Linked DNA regions of Homo sapiens. The protein of the gene in region 1 interacts with the protein of each later gene in a biochemical or structural test. Each region holds a gene or a part of one and is shown on either strand. Other genes may lie near its edges. The genes, in order: ELN, LGALS3, LOXL2, FBN1, FBLN1 and MMP12.

The links.
Region 2: the proteins of ELN (region 1) and LGALS3 form a complex in vitro, tested with the Homo sapiens proteins (one study listed by BioGRID).
Region 3: the proteins of ELN (region 1) and LOXL2 interact in a biophysical measurement, tested with the Homo sapiens proteins (one study listed by IntAct).
Region 4: the proteins of ELN (region 1) and FBN1 form a complex in vitro, tested with the Homo sapiens proteins (one study listed by BioGRID).
Region 5: the proteins of ELN (region 1) and FBLN1 form a complex in vitro, tested with the Homo sapiens proteins (one study listed by BioGRID).
Region 6: of the proteins of ELN (region 1) and MMP12, one has a biochemical effect on the other in vitro, tested with the Homo sapiens proteins (one study listed by IntAct).

The regions. Positions count from the first base shown.
Region 1 is NC_000007.14:74,048,673-74,052,172, forward strand, and holds part of ELN (elastin isoform a precursor), read left to right. Parts: intron 1-3,077; coding exon 3,078-3,167; intron 3,168-3,251; coding exon 3,252-3,311; intron 3,312-3,500. UniProt on the Homo sapiens protein: Major structural protein of tissues such as aorta and nuchal ligament, which must expand rapidly and recover completely.
Region 2 is NC_000014.9:55,135,752-55,139,251, reverse strand, and holds part of LGALS3 (galectin-3), read right to left. Parts: intron 2,270-3,500; exon of another isoform or gene 1,883-2,269; coding exon of another isoform or gene 1,879-1,882; coding exon 1,861-1,878; exon of another isoform or gene 1,208-1,860; coding exon 884-1,207; intron 1-883. UniProt on the Homo sapiens protein: Galactose-specific lectin which binds IgE. May mediate with the alpha-3, beta-1 integrin the stimulation by CSPG4 of endothelial cells migration.
Region 3 is NC_000008.11:23,296,397-23,299,758, reverse strand, and holds the end of LOXL2 (lysyl oxidase homolog 2 precursor), read left to right. Parts: intron 1-811; coding exon 812-923; intron 924-1,636; coding exon 1,637-1,716; 3' UTR 1,717-2,862; downstream 2,863-3,362. UniProt on the Homo sapiens protein: Mediates the post-translational oxidative deamination of lysine residues on target proteins leading to the formation of deaminated lysine (allysine).
Region 4 is NC_000015.10:48,407,813-48,411,709, reverse strand, and holds the end of FBN1 (fibrillin-1 isoform a preproprotein), read left to right. Parts: intron 1-330; coding exon 331-720; 3' UTR 721-3,397; downstream 3,398-3,897.
Region 5 is NC_000022.11:45,544,383-45,547,882, reverse strand, and holds part of FBLN1 (fibulin-1 isoform D precursor), read right to left. Parts: intron 799-3,500; coding exon 679-798; intron 1-678. UniProt on the Homo sapiens protein: Incorporated into fibronectin-containing matrix fibers. May play a role in cell adhesion and migration along protein fibers within the extracellular matrix (ECM).
Region 6 is NC_000011.10:102,864,983-102,868,482, reverse strand, and holds part of MMP12 (macrophage metalloelastase preproprotein), read left to right. Parts: intron 1-413; coding exon 414-575; intron 576-1,089; coding exon 1,090-1,213; intron 1,214-2,034; coding exon 2,035-2,168; exon of another isoform or gene 2,169-2,547; coding exon 2,548-2,707; exon of another isoform or gene 2,708-3,285; intron 3,286-3,500. UniProt on the Homo sapiens protein: May be involved in tissue injury and remodeling. Has significant elastolytic activity. Can accept large and small amino acids at the P1' site, but has a preference for leucine.

The DNA.
Region 1 (3,500 bases):
TTTCAACATCACCCATCTATCTATCCCTCCCTCCAACCATTCTTCCATGCATCCATGTATCCATTCATCCTTCCATCAATCTATTACTTTCTCCATCCCTCCCTCCATCCATTCCCATTCCTCCATGCATCCATCTATCCATCCATCCATTCATGTACTCATCTGCCCATCCATGCATCCATCCACTCATCCGTCCATTCATTCATCCATCCATCTCTCCCTCCATCCATTCATCCATCCATCCATCCATTCCTCCATGCATCCATCTATCCATCCATCCACTTATCTATCCATTCATCTACTTATTTACACATCCATGCATCCATCCATCCATCCACTCATCCATCCACTCATTCATCCATCCATCTCTCCCTCCATCCATTCATCCATCCATCTATCCATCCATCCATCCATCCATCCATCCATCCATTTCTCCATGGATCCATCTATCCATCCATCTGTCCACACATCCATCCATCCATTTATCCATCCACCCACTCATCCATCTATCCATTCATCCACCCATCCATCACTACCTCCCTCCATTCATCCATCCTCCATTCCTCCATGCAGCCATCTATCCATCCATCCATCCACTTATCCACCCATTCATCCATCCATCAATCCCTCCCTCCATCCATTCTTCCATCCATCAATCCCTCCCTCCATCCATTCTTCCATCCATCCATCCACGCATCCATCCATTCCTCCATGCATCCATCCATCTATGCACCCATCCATCCATCCCCTCATCCATCCATCCATTTATCCATCCATCACTCCCTCGCTCCATTCATCCATCCACCATCTATCCATCTATTCCCCCATATACCCATTCATCCATCCAACCATTCCTCCATGCATCCATCTATCCCTCCATCCATTCCTCTAGGCACCCATCCATCCATTTCTCCATGCATGCATCCATCCTTCCATCCATCCTTCCATCCATCCATCCACCATCTATTCCTCCATGCATCCATTCATCCATCCATCCATTCCTCCATGCATTCATCCTTCCATCCATCCATCCACCCATCAATTCTTCCCTCCATCCATTCTTCCCTCTATCCATCCACTCATCCATCCATTCTTCCCTCTATCCGTCCACTCATCCATCCATTCCTCCATGCATCCATTCCTCCATGCATCCATCTATCCATCCATCCATTCATCCATCCACTCATCCATCCATCCATTTACCCATCCATCCACTCAATCCATCCATCCATCCATCCATACATCAATCCATACATCAATCCACCCATCCATCACTCCCTCCATCGATTCTTCCATCCATCCATCTGCCCATTCTTCCATGCATCCCTCCATCCATTCCTCCATGCACCCACCCATCCATTTCTCCATGCATGCATCCATCCTTCCATCCATTCATCCATCCATCCATCCATCCATCTATTCCTCCATGCATCCATCCACCCATCCATCCATTTCTCCATGCATCCTTCCATCCATCCATCCATCCATCCATCCATCCATCCACTCACCCATCTATCCATCCATCCATCCATCTACCCATCAATTCTTCCTTCCATCCATTCTTCCCTCTATCCATCCACTCATTCATCCATTCTTCCCTCTATCCATCCACTCATCCATCCATTCCTCCATGCATCCATTCCTCCATGCATCCATCTATCCATCCATCCATTCATCCATCCACTCATCCATCCATCCATTTACCCATCCATCCACTCGTCCATCCATCCATCCATCCATCCATCCATCAATCCATCTATCCATCACTCCCTCCATTGATTCTTCCATCCATCCATCCATCCATCTGCCCATTCTTCCGTGCATCCCTCCATCCATTCCTCCATGCACCCATCCATCCATTTCTCCATGCATGCATCCATCCATCCATCCATTCCTCCATGCATCCATGCACCCATCCATCCATTCACCCATGCATTCATTCATTCATTCATTCATTCATTCATTCATTCTTTCCTCCATGCATTCATCCATGCCTCCTTCCTTCCCTCCCTCACTGCCTCCTCCCACCCATCCATATCAGAGATCAGGGACAAACAAGAGTTCTCTTAGAGAATATAGCCACTGTTGTGGGAGTCAAGAAACGGGAGGCATTTTTTTCTACCTGAGGAAAGTTAGAAAGGCTTCCCAGAGAAAGTGACATGTGATTTAGGCCTTAAAAATAAAGATGGAGCTTACCATGTGGTTAAAACAGGAAAGAGGAGGCCAAGCAGAGGGAATGGGTACCACGGTGGTTAGAAAGATAATTTTAGGTGGTGCATATATAAGCATTTAAAATATTTAATAGTTATGTATCAATTTAATGTGTACTATAAAAATGTTAACTCACTGCTCAGGTCAGTGAGTTCTTGGCTAGCATGGCTGCAGATGGAACGTGGTATTCCTGTGCCCGTGCAGTGGGTGGAGTGGGCATCTGTCCCCTGCCCCAGGTAGTGCCCACCTCAGGGTCAGACCACTAGGGCTGAAGTCCTCCTTCATCCTCAGCCCCAGGGAAGCCCTTTCCTTATCTCCCCACCAGCCCGAGAGAGCGAGAATGTGGGGAGAAGCCTGAAGCTGGGCCTCCCAGTGGAGGCCCCGCAGGCCCCCCTCCCAGCACCCGAGGCTCCTTGGCCCCAGCGGCTGGTGGGGACGGCTGCAATGTGGGAGCGGGAGAGCAGGGCTGTGAGGGGCTGCCAGAGCCAAGCAGCCAGGCGCTTGGATTACAAACTTGGCTGCATCTTCGGAACACAGGGAGAGGAAGTCTTGAACATTCCTGCAGGGGACCCTCTGGCCCAGGGAGCGGCCACTTGTGGTTTCTCAGTATGTGGCAGTGATTAGAATGGGATTTGTCTGAAAACATACAAGTCCCTTAATGAGTGTGTTGAAATGGACACTTTGGGGGAGAGTCAAGGAACAGTGGAGTGGGGTGGGGGCCTCCCCAGACAGGCCCATCTGGAGACACCCGGGCCCCATTCCTGGATAAGATCACACTGGTGAAAACGCCGGCGTCTAAGTGGCCATCCTGCCTGTCCTCAGGAGGGTCCTTGGGAAACTACATTGCACTGTCCCCATCTCAACAGGTGCTGGAGCAGCCGGAGTCCTCCCTGGTGTTGGAGGGGCTGGTGTTCCTGGCGTGCCTGGGGCAATTCCTGGAATTGGAGGCATCGCAGGTAACATCTGTCCCAGCAGGGGGCGGGTGTGTCCTTGAGATGGCCACAGGGCAAGGACCTCACCCTCTGTGGCTGTGTTTTCAGGCGTTGGGACTCCAGCTGCAGCTGCAGCTGCAGCAGCAGCCGCTAAGGCAGCCAAGTATGGTGAGTGCCTCCCGGGGTGGCAAGTCCACGGCTCGGGCCCCTGCATAGACCTCGGAGACCCTAGCCGCAAAGCCAGATGGACTTGGCCTTTGTTCCTTCCCAAATATGCATTGTTCATGCCTCCTTACCTTTGCCCCTTCTGATCACTCTACCTGAGATGCCATCTCTATTGTTTTGCCCTGATTAACT
Region 2 (3,500 bases), on another chromosome or scaffold:
AATCAGTAGATTCTGGGGGTTCTTCCTCTGTAATCTCTCTTACATCTGCCTGTTCCTTTCCACAGCCTTCATGTCTCCCTCTCTCTGCAACTGACTAACCATCTCTGGTATAGGCCCTCTCAATGCCACCCACTCCCCCAAGTCTTTCTACTCTAAACTGACCTAAAAGGAGACAATGCTACCTTGTGCTGTCTTCTGCATAGTCCTGAAATGGTCTAATCCCATACTGGTACTTAGCTCTTTCCTCATATTTATTATATGTTTTATCATCCAACTAGATTATAAATCTGGAAAGGAAGGATCCTGTGGCTGAGATGTATCTGGATCCCCCATGGAGTTATGTTTTACACTTAGAATTCACTTGCTATGACATATTTTAATTTGCGTGAAAATTCAACCCTTAGATCACAAAATTATCTTTAGAAGGTTTTTCAAAACCAGATTACCCTGGTTCCTCTACATGTTTGCTCAATGACCCTGGACAAATTATATCACTTCTCTATTGCCCCATTTCCCCATGTGTGAAATGGGGTTATTAACAGTATCTTATAGCGTGGTAATGGGGTTAAATGAGATTATCCATGTAGATGCATACTATTGACATGTACTCCGTAAGTGTTAATAATAACCAAAATGTTCTCCATTACTACAATCTTGATTTATATTCATAAGCAGTTTTATCAGTGCCTTCAAAATACTCATTACCTTCTGTTTATACTAACCACACACAATAAGCTCAATATGAACACTTAATTTTTTGACTCTACCAACATACACCCATGGCTGGCCCTTGAGAAGTGGCTCTAAGCAGCAGCTTTAAAGCTCAGGGTCTCCCTGAAGCCCTCTGCATGTCAAGTACATGAAAGAAGGAATGCCATCTCACCAGTGGCCCAGCAGGGGCGCCATAGGGGCCAGTGGCAGGGTAGGCTCCGGTGGCACTTGGCTGTCCAGAAGATGGGTAGGCCCCAGGGCCGCTGGGTGGCCCTGGGTAGACTCCAGGTGCAGGTGCTCCGGGATAAGCTCCAGGTGCTCCAGGGTAGGCGCCTGGAGGTGCCTGTCCAGGATAAGCCCCTGGGGGTGCCTGCCCGGGGTAGGCCCCAGGATAGGAAGCCCCTGGGTAGCCCCCTGCCCCAGCAGGCTGGTTCCCCCATGCGCCAGGCCATCCTTGAGGGTTTGGGTTTCCAGACCCAGATAACGCATCATGGAGCTGGAAAGAAAGACATACACAATTACGGGACAGAAAGCATTCTCAAAAGCAGAATTTTCAGGAAAATAGGAATATGTGATCTAAGAAGGAGAGGAATATGGCAAAGGCATTACATGCATATCATTAAACTTTTTCCACTTATTAATAGTTTGAGTTTCTAAGACTAAAATTAGATGTTGGGATTACATATACTTTTTCACTTTATTCTTGCCTCCCAACGTCTCAGATCAGGGAGGGCTGCATTTTCATAATTAGCTCAAGTCAGGAGTTAGCGCTCCTCTACTTATAGCACATACTTTTTCATCACCGTGAGAAAAACAATCACAAACATCAGAATGCCCAGACTGTACCGCACTTCCCGCTACTCAGAGGATTTCTCAGCTCCTGCCGGCAGAGTCCACTCCCTTCCGCCCTGGGCCTTTTGGTGAAAGGGTTACTGTGAGTGAGTCCCAGGCCTCGCTCTGCCTGGCTTTCTTCCCAAATCTGCTGCTGGAAAAACAAGGCTCCAGCTTGCAAGCCCTCATTGGACAAATGAGTCCAGGGGAAGCCACGCAGTGGGAGAGTGAAAAGGGAAAGTCATGGTAAAAACAAAACCCCCAACCCTCAACCATGTGGAGCTGATCAAGGGGAAGAAACAGGCATAAAACACTTACCGAAAAATTGTCTGCCATTTTCCTGAAAGAAACAAAGATTATCATTTTATCCTAAAAGCTTTCACCAATTTCCATTAAACTGAACCTCACCACTAGTTCATTGTGCAGTTCTAATCCATCTCTAGGCATTATGCCTAAGTCAGTAGTGTGGCGCCACAAAAACATCTCTTCAAGGGGCAGGGATGCTATCCAGCTAGATTGCCAAACCCTATTTAACTCACAAGTTTAAACTTCCGTCACACTAGCCTGTGCTCTGAATCTTACCCATCTGCCCTCTGTCCCCACTAACTGCCCCATCCCCTACTCTGGGTTTTTGAAGATAAGCAGTGATTGATTACTACTGAGACAGGAAAGACAATGACCTCCAGACATAGTTGCTGCCCTGCTATTTATTCCTCTATTTGCACACACTTATGCCTGCTCCTGGCCAGGCACTGCGCAGGCTCCTATCTAGGTGTGAAGATGAATAGGCCATGATCTGCATGGTCAAAGGGGCCACAGGATCTAAAACTCAAAACAATTGAGCCCACAGAGATATAGAATAGAAGGATGGTTACCAGAGGCTGGGAAAGGTAGTGAGGGAGGGTGGGAGGGAGGTGGGGATAGTTAATGGGTGACAAAAATAGTTATAATGAATGAATAAGGCCGGGTATTTGACAGCACAGCAGGGTGACTATAGTCAATAATTTCATTGTACGTTTGAAAATAACTAAAAGTATAACTGGATTGTTTGTAACACAAATAAATGAGAAGAGGGATACCCCATTTTCCATGATGTGATTATTAGGCATTGCATACCTGTGTCAAAACATCTAACGTATGCCATAAATATATATACCTGCTATGTACCCATAAAGATTAAGAATTAAAAAAAAATAAAAGCCGAAGGGCCTACAGTGCAGCAAGGCAGATGAGATGCATCCATGGAAATGTGAAATAACAAGTCACAGATGCTATGAGTCAGAATGTGTGCTGTAGGAATTCAAACCCAGAAAGCTTACTTCTAAGAAGGAAAGGAAAGGTGCTGTTGGAGCTAAGCCTCAAAGGGGAGCTGAAGTTTGTATGTGCTTTTTTTTTTTCAAAGGTACTTGTTATTCCAAATAAAATATTTGGCAGTACAACAAACTAAGGTGAAAAAATTCAGGCAACGTGACGTGAAGGAAAAAAATATTTGGGTCTAAGATGCTACCAAAGAGGGTTTGCCTAAGGGGTGGTCTGGAGACATCAGTCCTGCTTTCTCCTGTTCCTTCCCATGTCAAGGCTCCAAAAGCACAAGATGCTTCACAGCTGTTGTAGGTGCTCCAGCAGTGAGGGGAGGAGGGCAGCTGGGCCCCTGAGGCATGGGTGAGTTCTTCCTAAGCTCAGGATCACCTGTGCCATGGCCTGAATTACCTGGACCTTGAAACAACCAGAATATCCTTCTCTTTGATTTGCCCACCTGTGATATTTACTCAATCACTTTTAGAAATGGCATCGGCCCCAAGGGATCCAATAAATGTCCACTACTTGATTCAAATGCAAGATATTGGCTGGGTGTGGTGGCTCATGCCTGTAATCCCAGCACACTGGGAGGCCAAGGTGGGCAAATCGCTTGAGCCCAAGAGTTCAAGACTAGCCTGGGCAATATGGCAAAACCCTGT
Region 3 (3,362 bases), on another chromosome or scaffold:
CCTGCTGTGGGTCGCAGCCCTTCCAAATGTGGCAGGACCCTCGAGGGAAGGCCTGTCATCTGTGTCCTCTGCCCCTCTGTTCACCACTGTTGTCTCTTCTCCCTCTCCCTCCCTTTCTCTTTTCTCCTCGGGTCCTCACCGTAAACCTCCCCTTTTCTGTTCCCTCACAGACACTCTCCCAGAATATGTCCTTCCTATTCCTGCTGTAGCTGGGGGGATGCGGATACAGGGGTGGGTGGAAGGATGGGGAGAGGGTGCAACTTCTCCAGCAGCCCCAGAGCCAGGCCCTCGGCCAGCAGAGCAGACAGGGACATGGATCCCCAAGTCCCACCTGTCACTTTACAGAGAGAGGAAGGGACATGTCCACAGTCACACGCCTGTGACGAGTGTCCCATCTCCAACGCCCAGGCAGCCCTCTTCCAGGTTCCCACACCGCCAGGTCCTCCCTGCACCCTTCTGCTTCTCTTCAGCATCTTCTTTTTGGGGCCTCCCCAGACCCCAACTTCTGCCTTCCCCAGAACTCCCAGGAGTGGGTGACCCCCTTCCGAAGGCCCACCCTGGGTAGAGGGGTGTGTGTTACACGGATATGGACAGAGGGCAGGGTTTCCCTCTTCCAGGCCATGCTTCCTCTGCTCCCTGACTCATCTCTTCCCCTCCCCAAGGACTTTGTTGAGACCCACAGACCCCCGTCTTGGGTCCCGGCACCTGCCACGCTCCCCTTCCCTGAGGTGCTGGTCTCTCAGAGCCCCAGGCCTGGGTGGAGGTGGCCGCAGAGGGAACAAGCAGCCTCCTCTGCCCTGCTTCTCCCTAGGTTGTTATTAACCCCAACTTCGAGGTTGCAGAATCCGATTACTCCAACAACATCATGAAATGCAGGAGCCGCTATGACGGCCACCGCATCTGGATGTACAACTGCCACATAGGTAAGGCCAGGCCGCCCCCACTCCAGGAAGCAGGCGGGAGCTGCCCTACTTTCTCAAGGACCCAGAGGCAGCTTCCTAATTTGGGTAAAGAGCTCGGGGAATGCAGCCAGCATCACATTTCCACATTCAGGACAGAAGCCACAGACACACAGGCCTGGATGGAGACTGAGTTTTTACAGCCAGCTCCGGCCACGGATAGAGGATGGTACAGGACCAGGCCAGCCCAGTGCAGACCCCAAGGCTTTTTAAGGGTTGGAGCTGAGGCCACTGGCTCATTATGTATGTGACCTCAAAAATGTGGGCATCAGCAATCTGTGGGCTCTGCCTATCAGGTTTTTCTGTCGAGAGCTGGAAGCTAGCAAACTACTGTTATTTCTAGTCTCCAATAAAGACACTTTTTTCCTTGGATGATAGGACTTGGGGAACAAAAGGGAAGGCAGAGCTTTTTCCTCTGCAGGAAAAGTCATGGGCCTCACTCTTGGCAAAAGGTTAAAATTAAAGGCGCTATATTTATTCACTCGTTCACTCAACTTTGACAGAGCACCTGCTATGTGCCCAGCCCTAGAGATGGCCAGTGCCTGGCACCTGTCCTTTTGAGGAGGGCACACACAGGTGGCCCCAGCAGCCCCTGAGGCCCACTCCCCTGGCTCAGGGTCAGGCAAGGCCCGAGCATCTCATTTGTCCACTCTCTCTACCCGATTCTCGCTCTTCAGGTGGTTCCTTCAGCGAAGAGACGGAAAAAAAGTTTGAGCACTTCAGCGGGCTCTTAAACAACCAGCTGTCCCCGCAGTAAAGAAGCCTGCGTGGTCAACTCCTGTCTTCAGGCCACACCACATCTTCCATGGGACTTCCCCCCAACAACTGAGTCTGAACGAATGCCACGTGCCCTCACCCAGCCCGGCCCCCACCCTGTCCAGACCCCTACAGCTGTGTCTAAGCTCAGGAGGAAAGGGACCCTCCCATCATTCATGGGGGGCTGCTACCTGACCCTTGGGGCCTGAGAAGGCCTTGCGGGGGTGGGGTTTGTCCACAGAGCTGCTGGAGCAGCACCAAGAGCCAGTCTTGACCGGGATGAGGCCCACAGACAGGTTGTCATCAGCTTGTCCCATTCAAGCCACCGAGCTCACCACAGACACAGTGGAGCCGCGCTCTTCTCCAGTGACACGTGGACAAATGCGGGCTCATCAGCCCCCCCAGAGAGGGTCAGGCCGAACCCCATTTCTCCTCCTCTTAGGTCATTTTCAGCAAACTTGAATATCTAGACCTCTCTTCCAATGAAACCCTCCAGTCTATTATAGTCACATAGATAATGGTGCCACGTGTTTTCTGATTTGGTGAGCTCAGACTTGGTGCTTCCCTATCCACAGCCCCCACCCCTTGTTTTTCAAGATACTATTATTATATTTTCACAGACTTTTGAAGCACAAATTTATTGGCATTTAATATTGGACATCTGGGCCCTTGGAAGTACAAATCTAAGGAAAAACCAACCCACTGTGTAAGTGACTCATCTTCCTGTTGTTCCAATTCTGTGGGTTTTTGATTCAACGGTGCTATAACCAGGGTCCTGGGTGACAGGGCGCTCACTGAGCACCATGTGTCATCACAGACACTTACACATACTTGAAACTTGGAATAAAAGAAAGATTTATGAAACGTGTCTGTGTTTCCTTTGACCCACAGCACCTGGGCCCTGAGCAGCAGGCTTCCTATGTTCAGTGGCCAGAAGCAGAGCTTCAGGTACATTCGTGGTTTTCTCCGGTGGACATGGGTCCTCAGATCCCCTCCAGCCCAGTGTGGCCACCAGGGCACCTCCTTCAATAGACTCCAAAAGGGGCAGCTCCTACCATCTGGGAGAAGCAATCTAAGGAGATCACAAAAAGTAACGGAACAGGAGTCATAATCTTTCTTGAACTCCTGTGGTTTTTACTGAAACTTGTCAGAAGGCATAGGAGTTGTGCGAGGGCTGGATGGGAAGTCTAGATTTAAACAACAGCCACCAGGCAGCTTATCAAAGCAAGAGGGCATCCGTTCACAGGACAGGGGCTCCCAGCAATTCCCAGTGGCAGTGGGGGGGTGGCTGGCCCATGCGACTCACCCAGACACAGGGGACTTCCCCTTGTGTCAACAGCATGCTAGGGCCCAGCAAACTAGAGGGTAGGTAGGACCACCTTGGCACCAACTCCACTCAAACCACAATTGAATGAGGGCGTCGGCACGCATTCAGATCTCACCTCTTGCCTTTGTTTACATTTATTTTGCAGGAACTGGCACTGACTGACAGGTAAGACCAGGACCAGCCCAGGGGTCCCAGAACTGTCCCACAGCACAGGCCAGAAGGCTGGATACCTGAACTGCCAAAGGAGTGTGGGCAGGTGCTACACAGCAGGTGCAACCCAGCTCCCAAAATTGGGCAGGCTGTGCACAGAGGCCCTGCAG
Region 4 (3,897 bases), on another chromosome or scaffold:
TCAGTAGTTCTGGGGTGATGCCGAGAATTTGCATTTCTAACAGATTCCCAGGTGATGCTGATGCAGCTTGTTCAGGGACTACATTTTGAGACCTCCAGATACAAATGATTTCAACCTGCCTTTCTTCCTGACATCAGTTAATATTTTCAAATATTACAAATATGTGCCAATTTAATACACTTGTGGTCTAAACAAAATGCTTTCAATATTGTGTATGCAGCATAAGGCAGAAAATTGTATTAGTGTGAAATTTGAGTCATTTTTTCTTTAATATGAGAGCTAAGTGGCATATGTACATTGTATTTAACATATTGCCATGTGTCTTTCCAGGATCAGTCTGAGACAGAAGCCAATGTGAGTCTTGCAAGTTGGGATGTTGAGAAGACAGCCATCTTTGCTTTCAATATTTCCCACGTCAGTAACAAGGTTCGAATCCTAGAACTCCTTCCAGCTCTTACAACTCTGACGAATCACAACAGATACTTGATCGAATCTGGAAATGAAGATGGCTTCTTTAAAATCAACCAAAAGGAAGGGATCAGCTACCTCCACTTCACAAAGAAGAAGCCAGTGGCTGGAACCTATTCATTACAAATCAGTAGTACTCCACTTTATAAAAAGAAAGAACTTAACCAACTAGAAGACAAATATGACAAAGACTACCTCAGTGGTGAACTGGGTGATAATCTGAAGATGAAAATCCAGGTTTTGCTTCATTAATTCACCATCCAGAGACCAAATAATTAAAAGAAAAACAAATATAGATAGGTAGAACTATATTTTCCCCCAATCAGAATCATCATATCATAGGTACAATCTTTCACCAAGTAAATTTGTATAAATAAGCACTATTCTTTGTATTACCAAAGCAAGGTACAGGTGACTACCCTAGTTCAAAACAACCACTTTCTCAGGCTTCTCATGTGTGTAGCTAAGCTACCTTGTCATATGTGTTGATTCTTGAAAACTGGGACGTGTATTTCCATTGGGGGTTGGCCATTTATGCTGACATGCCATCCTTCCAGCAAACGTACGGGAATGTGCTTTCAATTGATGGACTACTCTATTTTTTGCAAATTTGTAAACTTTGCTTCTCCAAATACAAGTACTAGGTTGTCCATTTATGGTACCTATTTGGTGCTAGTAAATTTTCAAACTAGATTTATAAATGCACTGTAATATGTACACAACTTAGAAACCAAATTACAAGTATTCAGTTCCAATACTTCATTAATTTCAATCAACCAAAGTTAGTTCAGTAGCTTATCTCAGTTATGAGTATAATACATTACATGTAAATTAAGTGTGTGTATACTGTAATCGTGCTATTTTTTATCATTGAAACATTTATAAACTAGAATAATAATGCCCTTAATGTGAGGGTTTGTAATGGTGCTTATTAAGACCAAAGACTTGTTAAATGTATACACCAAGTGGTAATGAAATTTCGGTGACTGGCCCACACGTGCATAGAGGTCTGGGAGGACCAGGAAACAGCCTCAGTGGCCAGAGGATCACCAGTGCATCCTTCATCACAGCATGTGCAATATGCCAAGATTACCCTCGGTCATTCCTGTCAACAAGGGGTCAATGTCATAAATGTCACAATAAAACAATCTCTTCTTTTTTTTAGTTTACCCCTTGGCTTTGTGTTCTTGCATGGATTTGGGGTTGGAGGGGCCATTCCGGAGGCTAAATAAAGTCTCCTGGATTTAAATTATCCTGGGTCTCTTACTTATGGCTTATGAAAGTACCAAATGTATAACCACTAGAAGAAAATTTAACATATGAGTCGATCCCTTGTTTTATCCATTGAAAGTAGCAGAGTCTGGTGTCATTAACCTGACTTGCTTGTGAGAAATTTAGATTGTAGAGTCATTTCTGAAACATGACCTAATTCATCTTGTGACTTTTAAATAGTCTTAAATACCAAGTTCAGTCATTGTCTTAGAGCACATGAATTTCATTATAATAGATTTATCATGCCCCCCTCTCAAATATACACAGTTTTGGCAAGCCTTAGGTGTTCTGTTCCATTTTTTTTTCCCCTAAACATCTTTCGTTAGTCAATGCTCATCTAATTACAAAGGGATAATCCCAGACTGTATCCAATTGCTGTAACTTTTGGTTTCTTAATGTCATAATTTTTAAAGTCTGTTTTATTTTAAGTGCAATATTGAGTATTTAGCTGTTAGGCTCAATCCGTCGATATGAAATAATTTTTTAAATCCCTAAGGGCAGGAAAGCATTTCGTGGTAGTGAAAATAAGAGGAAATAAGATGGCATGAAGGTGGTGGGCGGAGAAACTAGGTAGGACACAGGAAAGTGCTCTCAAAAATCTTTGAAGAGCTCAGCTGAAAAAAATGGAGTAGATTTGGCTCATACTATTCCGGAAGGCAAAACCAGGGTCAGCTGATGTCAGCCCCAGTTTAATACACACGGTCCCAATTATAGAGCTACTCACTGAAAGAATGGGTTTCCTTGCATTGTGGTGAGCTCCCTGTCACAAGATAGAAGAGTTTCAGTCTAGGCTTAATGGCAACCATTGGACAAAGATGCTTTCTTCCACCTAACAGGCCATTAACATCTTAAAGGTATTTTTGTATCTCTAATTTTGTTTATAATAGGTGCTCAACAGAATGAGCTGAATGGCTGTTACAAAGGGGGTTTGTACCTTGGGTAAGAGATTAAAATATAACTCAAAATTTCCTTCTAACGCTGCACCTATGGAACCATGTGATAGAGGTGTATTAAAATTGTTATCGAAGAATATATAGCATATGGTAAACAACAGTTTGCATATGGAAAATGTCTTTGATAATTTAACCAGAACTGCATTATATTCAATAACGGATTTTCTTTATAACAAACAACAGGGGAAAATGGAGTTGGCACACAGTGGATCACTTTGATATTTTTAATAGTCCAAGTCTGGATTTTATTTATTCCTGAGCCAACAATTTTGAACAGCATATTTTCCATGTTTCTGACTGTAACAAAACATTTTCCTCATTGTTCCATTGTAAATATTCCTCTTGTTGGAACTCTTTTTAATCCTGAGATTTAAACCTGTACCTTTCAATTGTCTGTGACCTTTCAATTTCACTTTCAATAGTTGAAGAACTTGGCTTTGTAAATCTCTCAGAAGCTTGAAAATATCTTGTCTCTACCCCCTCAGCCCATTTCATTTGCCAATAATTATTTTGTAAGTAGGGTTGAAATGAACTCAGCTGGCCTTGTGAAATGTTTAAACTTGCACAAACAACTACATTTTTGTTCAACAAATAGCAGTTTACTCAGCCAAAATCACTTTGGATATTGCCATTACAAATACTGTTAAACTTCAGAAATCATGTCTGTAAATTAGATGAGCCAAAATAAAGGACAATTGGGTTGATGCTGCATTAGTATCCTTAAAAGTTATATACCCATAAATGTTAGGGATTTTAAAATTACCATCAACTTGGTCCACAGAATATATTTTATTCTGGTTTTAACTGTAGTTCTTAGAGAACTGTATTAGAAATGTAATTATTAGGAATGTAATTATTAAATGATTTAAGGACATTGTTTTTAAAGTTAGAAGATCATTACTGGCAGAAATATTAGTTTCACATTTATAGCTGAAGACAGATATTTACCCCTTGCCAATTTAAAATAACACTTTGTAAAAAAGAGAGAAGAAAAAAAAAACAATTTACTTCATTATGCTTTTTTTGAAACCCAGTATGAGCCTGACATTACGTATGAGTTAGGAAAGGATGATCTATATTATTCTGAGTGTTAGGGTTGGAGAGATAGAAAAGGGCTGTACACTTGACTTTGCAAATTTCCATGTATATTCATGACTGGTTTTATTCACAGGATTGGATCTCAGTTAAAGACATTCTCACAAAT
Region 5 (3,500 bases), on another chromosome or scaffold:
TGAGCCCCCTCCTTACCTCTCAGCCATGCACCACCACCAAGACCTGAGATATGCGGCCCAAGGTCCCAGTGCATGTTGTAATTACCGCCGTGCACATTTATTAAAGAACAAGTCAGGAGTGGTTTGCTGCCTTCCCACCCTCACGCTTAAGGATGGGAAAAGTATATTAGAATTTCAGTTGGGGGCCAGGCACGGTGGCTCATGCCTGTAATCCCAGCAATTTGGGAGGCTGAAGCAAGAGGATCACTTGAGCCACGGAGTTCGAGACCAGCCTGGGCAACACAGCAAGGCCCCGTCTCTAATTTTTTAAAAATAAAAAATTAGCCAGGCATGGTGGTATACACCTATGGTCCCAACTACTTGGGAGGCTGAGGTGGGAGGATCACTTGAGCCTGGGAAGCTGAGGCTGCAGTGAGCAGTGATTGCACCATATCACTCCAGCCTGGGCAACAGAGCAAGACCGTGTCTCAAAAAAAAAAAAAAAAAAAAAAAAAAACCTCAGTTGGAGGGAAAACAGCAAACCACCCGCTTGCCTCCAAGGGTGGACATGGAAGGTTTGTCAGGTGAAGAAATCCCAGCAGGCTCTTCCCTGTGGATTTTGAAAGTCAGAGGCCGTGCTGCTGTGTCATGGCAAGACCAGGGGGTGCTTTCCCCCTCAGCAGGCAGGGGCGTCCGCACCTTCACAGGTGACTCCATCCACATCGCTGAGCTGGTAGCCTCGCCGGCAGTAACACTGGTAGGAGCCGTAGACGTTGGCACACTCCTGGCTACAGGGGCTGCTGCTGCACTCATTGATGTCTGAAATACAAAACGAGGGTCACCGCTCAGAGCATCATACGTCCCTGCCTCCACAGTAGCCCTCAGGGTCAGTGAACAGAAAATCTCCTCTCCACCTCCCTCAGGTTAACACACTCGGAGAGACAGAGGTCCCGGGGGGTGTGGCCGAGGGAGAGGCGTCATCGCTGGTGGCTCCGGACCCTCCATCCCTGCTCCTGCCTGCTTCGACCACAACTTCTCCTGCCAGGATGGCAGCGATCGCCTCCAGCCTTGGCCCCTGGAAGTCTGCCCCGACCTGGCTGCCAGAGTCCATTCTAGTTCTCAAATGGAAATCTGATCCTGTGCTCTCCACTTCACCTCCAAGATGGCATCCTAAACAGATGACGGCACACAAGGAAGTCCTCGGCCACCCAGCCCATACGCCAGTACTCCTCATACTCCAATGCACAGAACTCACTGGGCCACTCAGCAACTCTGAACTACTGCTCAACTGTCCCCTTTACCTAAAGCAGAGGTCAGCAAATCATAGTCTATGGGCCAAATTTGTCCCAACACTTGTTTTTATAAATAAAGTTTTATTAGAACACAGCCCGGCAAGGCATGGTGGCTCATGCCTGTAATTCCAGCACTTCGGGAGGCCGAGGTGGGCGGATCACGAGGTCAGGGGTTCGAGACCAGCCTGGCCAGCATGATGAAACCCATCTCTACTAAAAATACAAGAATTAGCCAGGCATGGTGGCACGCACCTGTAGTCACAACTTCTCGGGAGGCTGAAGCAGGAGAATTGCTTGAACAAGGAGGCAGAGGTTGCAGTGAGCCAAGATCACACCACTGCACTCCAGCCTGGGCGACAGAGCGAGACTCCGTCTCAAAATAATAATAACAATAAAATAAAGAATACAGCCACATTCACTCTTTTTTTTTTTGAGACAAAGTCTTTGTCTGTCGCCCAGGCTGGAGTACAAGTAGCTCAATCTCAGCTCACTGCAATCTCCACCTCCGGGAGGCTATTGTCCACTAAATGTGGACATGAATTCAAGCAGTTCTCCTGCCTCAGCCTCCTGAGTAGCTGGGGGATTACAGGTGTGCACCACCATGCCCGGCTAATTTTTGTATTTTTAGTAGACACAGGGTTTCACGATGTTGGCCATACTGGTCTCGAACTCCTGACCTCAAGTAATCCACCTGCCTCAGCCTCCCAAAGTGCTGGGATTACAGGTGTGAGCCACTGTGCCCTGCCACACTCATTCTTTTACCATGGTCCTCTGGCCACTTCTCTGCTACCACAGCAGAGTTCAGCGGTTGCAACAGAGATTGTGGCTGGAAAAGCCTTAAATCTATACTATGTGGCTGTCACAGAACGTCCAATAGCCTTCCACCCCGTGTTTCATCTCTGTGGCCCCCACACACCAGGCCTGGCCTCCACCTGTCCAGTGTGGTCTCTCATCCCCCGCTAGAGACACTCCCCAGTGCAGGACCGAGTTCTTGCTACACACCCGGGGCAGGACCCTAACAAATGGTTAGTAAGGTCACATAGCAAGGTTGGCCAGGCTCTGGTTCTATATCCACAATATTGTCCACTAATGTGGATATGAATGCCGACTTTTCAGCAATTTATGAATGACTAGAGGAAGCACAAGCCAGGAATCCCACTACTTCTACTAAATAATAATAAAGCCAGCAGCCTCCACACCGCCAGCTCTTCATCCTGTGCTTGGCCCTGTGATAAGCTCTTCACATGCTTAATCTCGTTTCATCCTCACAACCCCCTATGGGGTTGGTCCTACTATGCCCGTTTTACAGATGAGGACACCATGGCCCAGGAAAGACTGAGTTACTTCTTCAAGGCCATGGAAATGGCAGAAGTCAGGTTTGAACACAAGCCTGAGAGACTCAACTCGTGAATCTTGTTCCTTGTCCATACACGTTCTTGTGAACTAAGCCCAGGACCCCTCACACCGTCCGTCCTCCGATTTGAGAATCATGCACACCACAGCTCACTGTGGCATATCCAACCCCTGCGACCATCTCATCAGGAAGGAAAATTCTCATGGCAAAATGTTAGGACCTGCCATGTTTGAGTCAGGCTGCAGAAGCCGTCCTGTGAGCCAGTGCACGGCACCAAACAGGGTGTCATCGGCAATGTGGACGATTGTGGAGGGCCATCCAAAGCTCTCAGTGTCTGCTCAGCTCAGAACCTAATCCGTATACAAGACACGACATCTGCCAAGCACCTAGTATGTGCCAGGCCCTGGGCTGACATGCAGTTCATGTGACCTTCCCATCAGCCCAGGAGGTTGGTGTTATCTGAGAACCACAAGACTGTTGGCAGGAACAACTCTGTCCAACCCCCACATACCAAGAGACCTGACCCAACTTCAGCGTGGCTGCCATTGGCCCAAGACCAGGTATCCAGGATGTAGACCCAGCCCCCTTGACATGCCTGTCTGAGAAAGATCAATGCTGCCAAAAGAATTTTCTCTTGGTTCCAGCCCAAACCTGACTACAGGCGCTGACCTCCATGTTCCTTAGAAGCATCTACTTTAGAAAAACTTGCAAATGTAAACGGTTTCTCTGTCCCTTTGAGATGTGCAACCAAGGAGTGTCTTTCTCAAGGGCTGGGGACATGCCTGGGGAATGTCGTCATCCGGAAGGCCAGGGTGCTTCTCCCTGTCTCTGCGGGTGGGGAAAGCCTAACTCCAACACGAAGTTAGAGGCAGGCC
Region 6 (3,500 bases), on another chromosome or scaffold:
TATTTAGAAGCAATGAAAACTGTTGAACGCAGCTGTGAGTTATTCTAGGAATTTTTACAACAGAATATATTTCATTTGTCTACTAGTACAGAGGTCCCTAACCCTAGGCAATTTTGTCCCCAAGGAGATATCTGACAATGTCTGGAGACATTTTTTGGTTGTCAAAACTAAAAAGGATTTGCTACTTGCATTTAGGGGTAAAACCTGAGATTTCTAAACAACTATAATGCACAGAACAGCCCAGACTACTGAACTGTAATGTCAGAAGTGCTGAGATTGAGAAACCCAACTCAAAAGGGTAAAGAAATAAGTAAAAGATTCTCAAATCTTTCTTTTTCACTGTGTCAGATATTGTGTTCTTGTCCAAGATGATAATGCATTTCACAGCTGTCTTTTGGTTGGTTTCTTCTTAGGCACAAACTTGTTCCTCACTGCTGTTCACGAGATTGGCCATTCCTTAGGTCTTGGCCATTCTAGTGATCCAAAGGCCGTAATGTTCCCCACCTACAAATATGTTGACATCAACACATTTCGCCTCTCTGCTGATGACATACGTGGCATTCAGTCCCTGTATGGTGAGTTGAATTCTTTATCATTTTGCCATATAAAGATACTCGCTTTTATGAATAGTCTAACAATATCTATATTTGGATAAAACGTTAATATCTGTCTTTTTTTAAGCCGCATAAGAACCCTGTGTGGCAGGTGACACAGGTATTATCTTCATTATACAGATGAGGACAAGAGACCTAGTATGTTAACGTCAGAGCCAGAGGCAGAACCAGAGGCCTCAAGTCTGGTGTTCTTTCTATCCAAGATACCATTGCCTTACTGATGAAGGCCCACACATTAAACAATCTATTATAACTGGAAAAGGAAAGTAAAGATAATCAGATTTTCTTCCTCCATGATATTGCAACCATGTGGAAAAAAAACCTTACTTTATACTTCCTGTGAATGTTATAGAAAGCTTAAAATGATTTTGATGCAATGTTCATTAAGAAAATTGAGTATTTAAAACATAACTGTTCCTCCTCTGAACTACAATGCAGATTTTGTTTACTAATGCTTCTCGAAATGTATTTTCAGGAGACCCAAAAGAGAACCAACGCTTGCCAAATCCTGACAATTCAGAACCAGCTCTCTGTGACCCCAATTTGAGTTTTGATGCTGTCACTACCGTGGGAAATAAGATCTTTTTCTTCAAAGACAGGTAGGATCATTTTCATATCTAACCAATATTAAAGTTTCTGCCTTTAAATTTTTTTTGTCAGAAAACAGTGGAAAATAATTGAAAATGAAGTAGATGAAACTTGTAAGCAGGAACTTGGACTCGATTCTGTAGGCAGTGAGGAGATCTTAAAGGTTTTGAAGCAGGAGACAGGTGTAATTACATTTGTGTTTTAACTAGAAAACTGGTGTGTAAAAAACGATTTGCAGTAGGAATCTGGGATGGGGATTTAGAAGATAAGAAACAGAAGCCAGACTATTTTAATCATAGATAAAAATGGTGAAGTCTGAAACCAAGACTGTAAAACAGTACCTATGCAAGAGACTTGATTTCCTGGTTATGGAGGAGAGAATTCCAGGATAACTTATGGTTTCTTTCTTAGAACACAGACTGAAGCAGATGTTGGTGGTAAGGAGGGGCAGTTGGGAAGACTAACATTTGTCAAGTAGGACAAATATTTCCCATTTTTGAGATTATAAGACTGATACACTTGAGGATAGTGACTTCCTTGAGGTTACAAAACTGGTGAGTGAATTGTAGGGTCGAACCAGAAGCTTAGATCCCTGGATTCCAAGCTCCAGGGTATTTCTGTATACCAGATTGCTTGTTAAAGTCATTGTTATTATCAAAGAGTTGATTGATATCCTTTTCTTGTGGATCCATGAACATCAGACATCCATGGAACAGAATGTGAAGACAATGGAAAGAAATATTGGGTCTTTTCACAGTTCCCTCCCATTCACATGCCATGGTTCTTGAGTCTACATTGTCTTTTAACATGTGTCAAATGTCTTTCATGTCAGGTTCTTCTGGCTGAAGGTTTCTGAGAGACCAAAGACCAGTGTTAATTTAATTTCTTCCTTATGGCCAACCTTGCCATCTGGCATTGAAGCTGCTTATGAAATTGAAGCCAGAAATCAAGTTTTTCTTTTTAAAGGTAATTCTAATCTTTAGTTTTGCCATTGAGTTTACTTCAAGGAAGAGAATAAATTGAGAAGAGACTACTACTTTTTAATAGATATAGACCAAGAAAGCACTCTTGATTTTATTAATAGTGGCTCGCTCTGAAGTGTAAACTAAAATAGCCTAAATACCTAAGTAATATATACAACTTCTGGGAAAAGTTTGTAAACTACAAAATAGTAATACTTGTGAAAAAAAACCATGGGAACCATAGAAAAGAGACTATGTTTAAGATCAATAAGCAATAAATATTATAACTGTTGGAAAGGAATTATGTTGTTTATAGTAAATCAATATTTTCTTATTACTCTTCCTGTATAATTCAAATTTACCCTATTTCTTTGTCTTCACAGATGACAAATACTGGTTAATTAGCAATTTAAGACCAGAGCCAAATTATCCCAAGAGCATACATTCTTTTGGTTTTCCTAACTTTGTGAAAAAAATTGATGCAGCTGTTTTTAACCCACGTTTTTATAGGACCTACTTCTTTGTAGATAACCAGTATTGGAGGTGAGTTTTAATGGTTGGTCATTCGACCCCTCAGATTGTGAAACAGATATGGAATGAGGCTTTCTAGAAGGCACATTTTCTGCGCAAATTCCCAAAGCTCCTTGACCTTCCAGGGAGAGAGATTAAGAGAATATAGGACTGAAATAGTTATTGTCAACTTAGTTCTTTGTGTTTTTGGTTTCTGATATATGAAATAGTAGATAATGTGTGTTTTTTTTTAAAAAAACACTCTAAATAAAATGTCATCTTATTAATCATAGTGGAAACACATTGGAAAATAGTGTCATAGATGTACAAGACCAAGTATTTAATCTACAGTCAGTTTCGAGGGTTATGGATTTCCAGATTCCTTTCTGTAATCACTGGATTCAAAAGACAAAATGAGACAACCATCCTCTAAATGACAGGAGGTCAGGAGGTCCTGCAAGATCTTCCTTAAAAGAAAGTCATATGGTCAAGTGAGGATAGGAGCTCATTTGAGTGTCTGTCTCTGTTGTCTCAATTGTCTACATTTTGAAGGAGGAGAGGATTCTGTATTCCTTCTTCTGAGTAAGCCAGTCATTTCCTAGATTGCTTGCCTGGTTGACATGAGACATAACATATATGTTAAGCTTACATTTACAACTGTTATTTATTCTTAAGCATTTAAAACACAATATCTAATTCCAATTGAATACCGGATGCTTATGACTTGAATTTGTCCACCAGCCCTTAGCTCTGTTTGAGAAACAAAACTTGATTTTAGCAAATAACACTTTCCAAAGAGCTCACAAATGGGTGTAGTTTGCTGTAG